Linked DNA regions of Homo sapiens: region 2 is linked to region 1. Evidence: fine-mapped expression QTL. A gene starts in region 1. The other region holds a variant in brackets. All regions are shown on one strand. Distances are between the middles of the regions.

Evidence for each region. PIP is the estimated chance that this variant, and not a neighbour inherited with it, causes the effect.
Region 2: its variant is the best candidate, but not a certain one, in a credible set for the expression of ARHGAP21 in blood mononuclear cells (TOPMed, PIP 0.89).

Annotation. Positions count from the first base shown.
Region 1 is chr10:24,721,492-24,725,871 of GRCh38, forward strand. ARHGAP21 (Rho GTPase activating protein 21) reads right to left here and starts at 2,396. Exons shown (of 26, transcript NM_020824.4): 1 at 2,071-2,396; 2 at 346-788. The coding sequence starts at 408. RefSeq lists silencers at 1,176-1,485, 1,546-1,905, 1,926-2,005, 2,096-2,165, 2,196-2,385 and 1 more and an enhancer at 1,929-2,839.
Region 2 is chr10:24,892,815-24,897,194 of GRCh38, forward strand. All of the region lies in intron 3 of PRTFDC1 (phosphoribosyl transferase domain containing 1), which reads right to left. Among named protein-coding and RNA genes, the nearest start is that of PRTFDC1, 58 kb to the right of the region's middle. The variant C/T (reference allele first, on the strand shown) is at 2,102.

The sequences.
Region 1 (4,380 bases):
CTCGGAAGGGGACTGAAGGAAAACGGATACTGAGGTGCCCATTCTCAGGCTTGTAGCATCCACAGCCACAGAGACGGGAGAATTCCTGGCTCTGAGAAGGGGTGACCAAGATGAGGACATTCCAAACTGCGGGACATGTTCTTGCAAAAGAAACACGGGAGTCCCTGGAAACAGACGTGGGCCAGGCTTCTCCTCGCTACTGGTTAAGCTGGGGCGCTCCCGCCAACAGGCTCAAAGCCCCGGGAAGCCCCTAGTGAGGCCCCGTGGCCGGTAACCCCCAACTTGCAGGACGCTCAAGACACAGGCCACCGCCCTGCCGGCCAGGAACGCTGGCTCCGCGCTTACCTCGCAGGCCTTGAGCTTGTCACCATCTCCCTCAGACAGACCAGTCCGACGCGTGGCCATCATTTCATTTCAAATGACAAAGAAGGGACAAATCCTTTGGAGTCCACATTGGACGTGGCGGGGAATGCCACCACACACCCGAAGGGGAAGAATTCCACAAGCAGGCTCCGAGGAGGGGCAGGGCTGTTGAAACAGACAACGTGCCAGGGAATAAAGGTTTTCAGGAAGCGCCTTCAAATGCCTCGCTGATTTCTCGTGACTTCAACTGACTTCGCCTTCTTCTTCCATTTCTGGAGACTTAAAAACAAAGGCGACAGGTCTTCTTGGCAGCCAGTGTCGAGGCCAATTGCAGAAAGCGGTCCCCTTCTTCCCAGTGCCACTCCTGAGTCCTGGAAAAATCCGAATGGGTCGTGAAGGTTCGAGTGTCAGCTCCTAGAGAGATCCTAGGAAAACGAGAAGTTAAAGGTCATGAACTTTCTCCAGGCGCCTATCACTGTCTTGCCCACATGTCCACACCAAGTTCGCGTTTCCTCCCGAGCAAAACAAACAAAAAAAAATTTTAACGTAAACAAACAAAAAGCCTATAAATTCGAGGGGGTGTTTAAAAAAGAGAAATCTCGAAACTGCCCAGCGGTTGCGTCAAACACACCTGGCTGTTATGCAGCCTTCAAGAAAAAATGTTCCCCATTCAAGTGCATTTTAATTCATGTCTTTCCTGGGTAGAGCAGAGGGCTGTGCATGTTGTTTTCTGCATCACCCAGACAGGGACACTTCGGTGAAGTTTTCTCCCCCACGAGGCTGAAATGGGATCACACTTTCCAAGCCCCCTCTTCGCTCCCCTCCGCCCCCCAAAAACGCAAGCACAAAGCCAGCCTGGCTGGGGCCGGCGTGGGCTCGGCGGCGTCTCCGGGTGACTCGGGCGCCGCCCCTCCGCCCCTCCGCCCCGGCCGGCGTCCCCGAGGAGGCGGCTGTTTTCCTTGGCCCGCGGCGGGGCTGGGTGGGGACGGCCGGGGAGGCGTGCGCGGCCGCGGGTGGGACGCCGGCGCCGCTCCCGCTCCAGGGCATGATTCTGGAGCTACACCCGAGCAACTCTGAAGTCGCGGCTTTTCCCCCAACTACCACTCGACACGGCTTCCCTTCCCCTGTGGCCACCTAGGGGGAAAAAACGAGAAAAAGCAAACCACCACCCACCTCCCCACGATTCCCCCGCCCCTTCCTGAGGCGGGTCGGGGACCTCGAGCTCCCGAGGAGAGCGGCCCCAATATGGACTTTCTCAAAGGTGCTAGGAGCCCCGGGGCGAGACAAAACCGGGGGCCTTACCCTTCCCGCCCGCTCGGGCCCGGCGGCCGAAGCGCGGCGGCGAGCTGAAGCGGAGACGCTGGCCGGGCGCCGGGCCCGGCCGGGACGCGCTAGGCCGCAGGCTCGGTTAATATTCATGAGCGGCCCCAGGCGCCCCTCCTCCAAGGCTGGCCGGCCGGACCCCAGCGCCCACCGCCGGCCTTTGTGCCCTTCCCTCCGCCCCGCCGCCCGCCCTTGCTCCGCACACGCGGGCGCGGCCCCTCCGCCCCCGCCGGGCGCCCGCCGCGGGCTCCCTCCGGCCCCGAGCCAGCGCCCGGCCGGGTGGCCTGTGGCGGGAAGGGAGAGAGCCCGCGGCAAGCCGGGCACTCCACGGCCCGCGAGCGCAGCGCCCTCTCGGCTGAGACGGAAAAGAAACCAGACACGCACCAGAGGAAGCGGGACGAGTGGATCCGCACGGGGCTGGCCGGCTCCGGGACAGCGCGCCCCGCCCGCCCGCCCGGCGTGAGCCGGACCCCGCAGCCGGACGATCCCGCGCTGCCCGCCGCCGCCGCCGCCGCCGCCGCCGCGCTCCGAGGCCGCCGCCCCCGGCCGGCCGCTCCCAGGCACCGCCGCGACCTGCCCCGGCCGGCCCCGGGCTCTCGGCCGCCGCAGGAGGGCGTGGGGCGGGGCGGCGGCCGCCGGACTCTCCCCTCGCCTCGCCGGGCCGGGCCGGGGCCCAGCTCCGGCGCCCGCGAACGCCAAGTGACAGAAGCGCCTCGCTCCGTGGCCGCGCGGAGCTGTTTCCCGGGGGCGGATTTCTCGCTTCTTCCTCCCTGGATCCACCTCCTCCCACTCCACCTCCTTCCCCTCCCCTCCCCAGGGGAGGCTCTGGGGCTGAATATTTTCTGTCTTGAATAACACGGGACCGGGGAACCGACGCTGGAGAAGGGGGATTAGCCGGAGGCCGGAGCGGGGTGCTCGCCTGCCCCCTCCCCGTGGGTCGCGGGACCTACAAGCCCTCGCCCCCCAGCACCCCAAAACCAGGCACACAACGCTCCCCGCCCCTGCAGTCTCCCAAGCGCTGAACGGCAGCGTCCAGGGATGGGCTTGCTCCCGGGAAAGGAGACCTGGTGGTAGACGTCTGGGGTGGAGAGGGGGACAAGCCTATAACAGCGACATCTGCAGACTCCAGGGATCAAAGGTCCTAGATTGGGGGACAGGGCTTGGCAAATTGTGCCCCCACCCCTTTTTTGCAGCGGGAAGGCAATGAAGCTGCGACGAGACGTGGGACTTCCAGATAAGGGAGTGTCCCCTCACGCCTCACAGCAAAAATCTCTTCCTGTGGTGGGAAGGGGGAAGTTAGCCAAGCGTTGCTCATTCAGTTCTTTCCCTTTTATAAATTCTGCAGAGCGGCTGAGCGAATTTGGCGCGGCTAGCGGAACTGTGGAGAGGCGGCTGCGCTTCTCTGTCCGCCACACTCCAGGTCACAGCGGCTCCGGAGCCGCGGCACAACCGCCACCCTCCCCACCCAATTCCCGGGCCTTGTCACAGACCCCGGCAGCTCGCTCCGCCCCGCCGTGCCTCACAACATCTCCCGCTGCAAATTACCCAATCGGGAGACGCGACGAGAGAACGCGAACCAATCAGGGGCTGGTAAATCAGGCTTCCCTCCGCCCTCTTCCCCGCCCCCGGGTGAAGGCCACCGCCCCCTCGGCCTCTCCTTCCCACCCCGCCCCGCTCCGGGGAGGTGGCTCCCCGGCTCCGAGCCTCGCGGGGCTGGAGGGGGAGTTGCTCGCAGTCAGAGGCAGCGTTTGTCACCTTGTCACCCTCATCCTCGCCCCCTCCCATACACACTCCCCTCCCCTTCTCGGTGCTCCTGCTGGTGCTGTTGAGGGTCATTTTTATCCTCACTGCGGCCGGGGACTGCCAGCTATTGTGTCTGATCAGCTGCCACCGCTGTCCAGAGGGAAAAAAAGAAGAACAAAACCTAGAAACTGTGGAGTCCTCTTACCTTTTCCTTCTTTCTTTCTACACTCTCCCCTGTAGACTTAGAAACATCCCTTCTCCTTCCCCGCCCGCCCACCACCTGAGGTCCTGTTTCTTTATGGGGGACAGGGGAGCGGGGACAAAAAACACTCCCTGCAGCTGGAGTACCTGCGCCTTAGTTTTTACATCTTCCTTAAAGTGGAAGGTGCCAAACCAAATCTACAACTAAATCCTCCGCTTCAATTCGAGGGAAGACGTTGACGAGATCATTTTTATATGGCCATGAAATTTGCGTGTTCTTGACAGCCTGTCACCAAACAAGTCAGCTAATAATCAAGAAAAGAAAAATAGAATAAAATACAAGGACTGTATTTCAGTCAGATGGTAATTTACTAAATAGCCCAGTGGCTGTAGCAGTATCCAGTGCTAGATACAATTGAGTAAATTAACAAGAAGTGAATAGAAATTCAGGGTTCAAGTAGCTCACCGCTTGTGGGCTTATAGAATATGTCCAGAAAGGAAAAACAACTTACAGCACAAAACAACTCCTTGCACATGCAAATGTGCATGCATGGCATGAACGGCGTACCTAACAGCTGAGGACTTTTGGGTTAAAATTTTTGCACTAGAAATTTTTTAAATGTTGATTGTGAAATTTTCAGTTTGATAAAGGAGAGTAAAATGTGGGCCATGAAAGGAGAAGGAAAAGGAAGGAAAACACATTCTAGGAATTATGGAAAAATAACATAACCTAGAGAGGCAATATTTCTA
Region 2 (4,380 bases), 170 kb after region 1:
CATTAAAGACCTAAAAGCCAGTGTTGGTACCACTGGCAAGCATGGGTACATATTAAGGATACACGAGTGATTTTTAAACCCGCCACATAAAATGTTTGATTTTTATCACTCCAGTTTATATTTGGCTGAGGAGTATGGGGAGAAAGAGTTTCTAAGATCTCTTAAAACCCTGGGATCTAGCTATCCGTAGATAAGACAATCCACCCAAATTTTGCTCATACAGTATCAGTCTTTGTAATAGCACACCTGACTGAAAGAAAAATAGAAGTAGCACATCCTATGTTACATAATGTTATATATTTGAGAATGAAAACTCACTTGAAATTCAAACACAATTTAAGAGGAAGGTATCCAAACTTGAAAAAATTTTCATGAGTCCATCTCTTAATAATTAGATAGGCATGTATAGTCAGAAAGTTTCTGAAAACACTGATTCTTTTGTTCTCTCTCTCTCTCTTTCTCTCTCTCTCTCTCTTTCTCTCTTTCTTTCTCTTGGCAGGGTCTTGTTCTGTTGCCTGGGCAGGAGTGCAGTGACGCAATCATAGCACATTGCAGCCTTGAGCTCCTGCACTCAAGCAATCCTTCTGTTTAGGCCTCCCAAGTAGCTGGGACTACAGGCGAGTGCCACCACAACCAGTTAGTGTTTTTTTGTTTTGTTTTGTTTGTTGGTTTGTTTTGTAGAGACAGGTCTCAATAGGTTGCCCAGGCTGGTCTCAAACTCCTGGCCTCAAGTGATCCTCCTGCCTTAGCCTCCTACAGTGCTGCAACAACAGGAGGGCCACTGTGCCCAGCTTCATTTTCTTGTAACTAGAAGAATATGTTTCATTAGCTTATAATAGTAATAATAATAGCTAGTCTAACCTTTATAGTGATGGATACTGTGCAGGGTCGTACTTACTTGATCTCATTTTCTAGATGAGAAAATGGAATCTTAATTAAATCGTTGGTCCAAGCTCACTCAGTAATTGGCAGAGCCTGAATGTGAACCCAGGCCTGCCCCACAGCAGAGCCCTCCTGTTTGAGCATTATGTTGAACTTCAGGGAAATGACACAAATCCATACAAATCAACTTGGCAATGCTGGCGGTAGCAGTGCTCAACATGGGCACCCACAGTTTGTCACCTCATGACGTCTATTGGAATGTACTTGGGTCAAGGCAGAGGAGGTGCAGAAACTGCTTGTCTCCTGATAACATTACTGTAGTCCTCAAAGGAAGTGTGAAAATAGGACTTCATTGGCCGGGCGCGGTGGCTCACGCCTGTAATCCCAGCACTTTGGGAGGCCGAGGTGGGGGACCACGAGGTCAGGAGATGGAGACCAGCCTGGCCAACAAGGTGAAACCCTGTCTCTACTAAAAAATACAAAAATTAGCTGGGCGTGGCAGCATGTGCCTGTAATCCCAGCTACTCGGGAGACTGAGGCAGGAGACTCGCTTGAACCTGGGAACCAGAGGTTGCAGTGAGCCAAGATCATGCTGCTGAACTCCAGACTGGCGACAGAGCTAGACTCAATCTCAAAAAAAAAAAAAAAAAAAGAGAGAGAAAAGAAAATAGGAGGGCACTGCTGGCCCTTTGGCCGTGGGAAGTGCTGCATGAGCTGTGAGTCATGCTCTTAGGCTTCGGCCTCTGTGGATGCTGACCACTGACCATCACCAGCAGGCTCTGGACAGGCAAGGTGGGTTTTGTCTGTCACAGTCATGTGTAGTCAGTGGAGAAGAGTGGTTTCTTTTTCCACTTCATGCAGCTCAGAGTTCTGTGAAGGCACCCGGGAGCCAATCTCGGTTTGTGGATGAGGCAAAGTGGCTCACAACCAGGTTCCTGCTCTGCGATCCCCAGGGCAGCTCCATTTTTGAGGTTTTATGGAAGACATCACTTAAAATGTTTCAGTGCTGAAAAAAAGTTTGAAAACCACCCTCCTCCTGGGAGACAGCATAGGATAGTGGTTAAGATCGTGGCTTTGGAGTTTGACAACATGGGTTCAAATCGAGGCTCCGCTCCTGTGGATTGTGTATGCCTTGGGCAAATGAACCCTTTTGAGCCCCAAATGCAGCCTGGCTCAGAGTGGGCATCAGGAAGTAGTGGCGACACACACCACTGTCTGG[C/T]CCCACCCGTGGGTGGTGAGATAGAAGGAAACCAGGTTAAACTCAAAGAGAGACAGAGAAGCCGAGTGGTTCATGAAAGAAAACCCTGGGCTTGGCTTCCCAGACAGGTTTGAAGCAGAGAGGGGTTTGCCTACGTCGTACCAGTCAATGTCTCCTAAGATCACAAAACTGGATGCCACCTTAGAGAAAAGGCAATCCTTGTCTTGTTATAAACTGAAAACTGAGGCCTGAGGAAGTTGTGCTTTGTACCAGATTTAAATTAGAAAGCTATATCCTGCAAAACATTCTATTTTTATATCCGAGTAGGATTTGTCCTTCTTCTGGAAATCTCCACTTTCTTTTTTTTTTTTTTTTTGAGATGGAGTCGCTCTTGTTGCCCAGGCTGGAGTGCAATGGCATGATCTTGGCTCACTGCAACCTCTGCCCCCTGGGTTCAAGACATTCTCCTGCCTCAGCCTCCTGAGTAGCTGAGGTTACAGGCATGCACCACCACACCTGGCTAGTTTTGTGTTTTTAGTAGAGATGGGGTTTCTCCATGTTGCTCAGGCTGGTCTTGAACTCCTGACCTCAGGTGATCCACCTGCCTTGGCCTCCCAAAGTGCTGAGATTACAGGTGTGAGCCACCACGCCCAGTCTTCACTTTATTAGTAGTTTTCTACGCCTTAGAGAATGTGGGGGGTGGTGCATGAACGGCCTTGCTTAGGGAAAAGGAACAGCACTGGAACAGAAGAGAAAGAAAACCTAAAAACCTAGGAGGGCAAGAGCTGGGGTGGATATATATATATATATATATATATATATATATATATATATCTGTAAATACATACACATGCATACACACATTCTCTATCCATATATCTAGAGAGGGAGACTGATTAAAAAATGGAAATCAATATCCCTTGATGCAATTTTTAACCCATTACAACAATAATATGAGTACAGACCTTCCATATAAAAATGTTTTCACATAATTTTCAGACACCTGGAAGTTATGTCAACGCATATTTAATCTAAAAACAAAATAAAACTAGTTCCCCCCCTTCTTTCTTTCACTGCACTGACACAGTGAAACATCTCTGGCCTCAGCTAACTCTTTGGCCACATGGTGCTCCCACCACACATGTACAGAGAAGGGCTTTTGGTCCTGGGAAACTAGGGCACAGAAGTCAACAGTAGGTGTTCTAGAACAGGGGTCCCCAAACCCCAGGCTGTGGATTGGTACTGGTCTGTGGTCGTTGGGAACAGGGCCACACAGCAGGAGGTGAGTGGCAGGAGAGGCAGCATTACTGCCTGAGCTCTGCCTCCTGTCAGATCAGCGGGGGCATGAGATTCTCATAGGATCACAACCCTATGGCGAACTGTGCATGCGAGGGATCTAGGTTGCATGTTCCTTACGAGAATCTAACTAATGCCTGATGATCTGAGGTGGAAGAGTTTCATCTGGAAACCATCCCCCAACCCTTCCCTAGTCCATGGAAAAGCTGTCTTCCACAAAACTGGTCCCCGGTGACAAAAAGGTCGGGGACTGCTCTTCTAGAGGGTGCTTCCCCAAGTCTTTAATTAGGAAGAAAGGCCATTTCTTCACTGGGCCTCCTCATGAGAATCCCAGAGTTCACTAGCTCAACTGCTGACAGTGCCATGCTAGTTTTAGTCTTTTCTTAATGGAAAGGGAGAAAAAGATGAAAGCAAATGCATCTTATTTGGAGGCACTTCAGAGGAAAGTCAGAAAGTATGTCACTCGGTCTGTTGTGAGGAGCACTGGGTGGTCAAGCACTAAACACTCTGGAAAAATCCTGAAATGTCCTCTGTGAAATTCAAGGTCTTTCCAATACCAAACAAAAGTGCATACCACTTAGCGTGTTCTTCTAAAAAGTTGAAAAGGCCGTGTGTACCTTTCGCCTGTAATCCTAGAACTTTGGGAGGCCAAGGAGGGAGGATCCCTTAAGGCCAGGAGTTTAAGACCAGCCTGGACAACATAGCAAGACCCTGTTTCTACAAACAATTTAAAAATTAATCAGGTGTGGTGGTGCGAGTCCGTGGTCCCAGTTACTCAGAAGACTGAGGTGGGAGAATTGCTTAAGTCCAGGAGTTCAAGACTAGCCTGGGAAACATGGCAAAAACCCATCTCTACAAAAAATACAAAAATTTGCTGGGCATGGTGGCATGTGCCTGTAGTCCCTGCCACTCAGGAGGCTGAGGTGGGAGGATCGCTTGAGCCCAGGAGTTTGAGGCTGCAGTGAGCAATTATGAAGCCACTATACTCCAGCCTGACAGAGCAA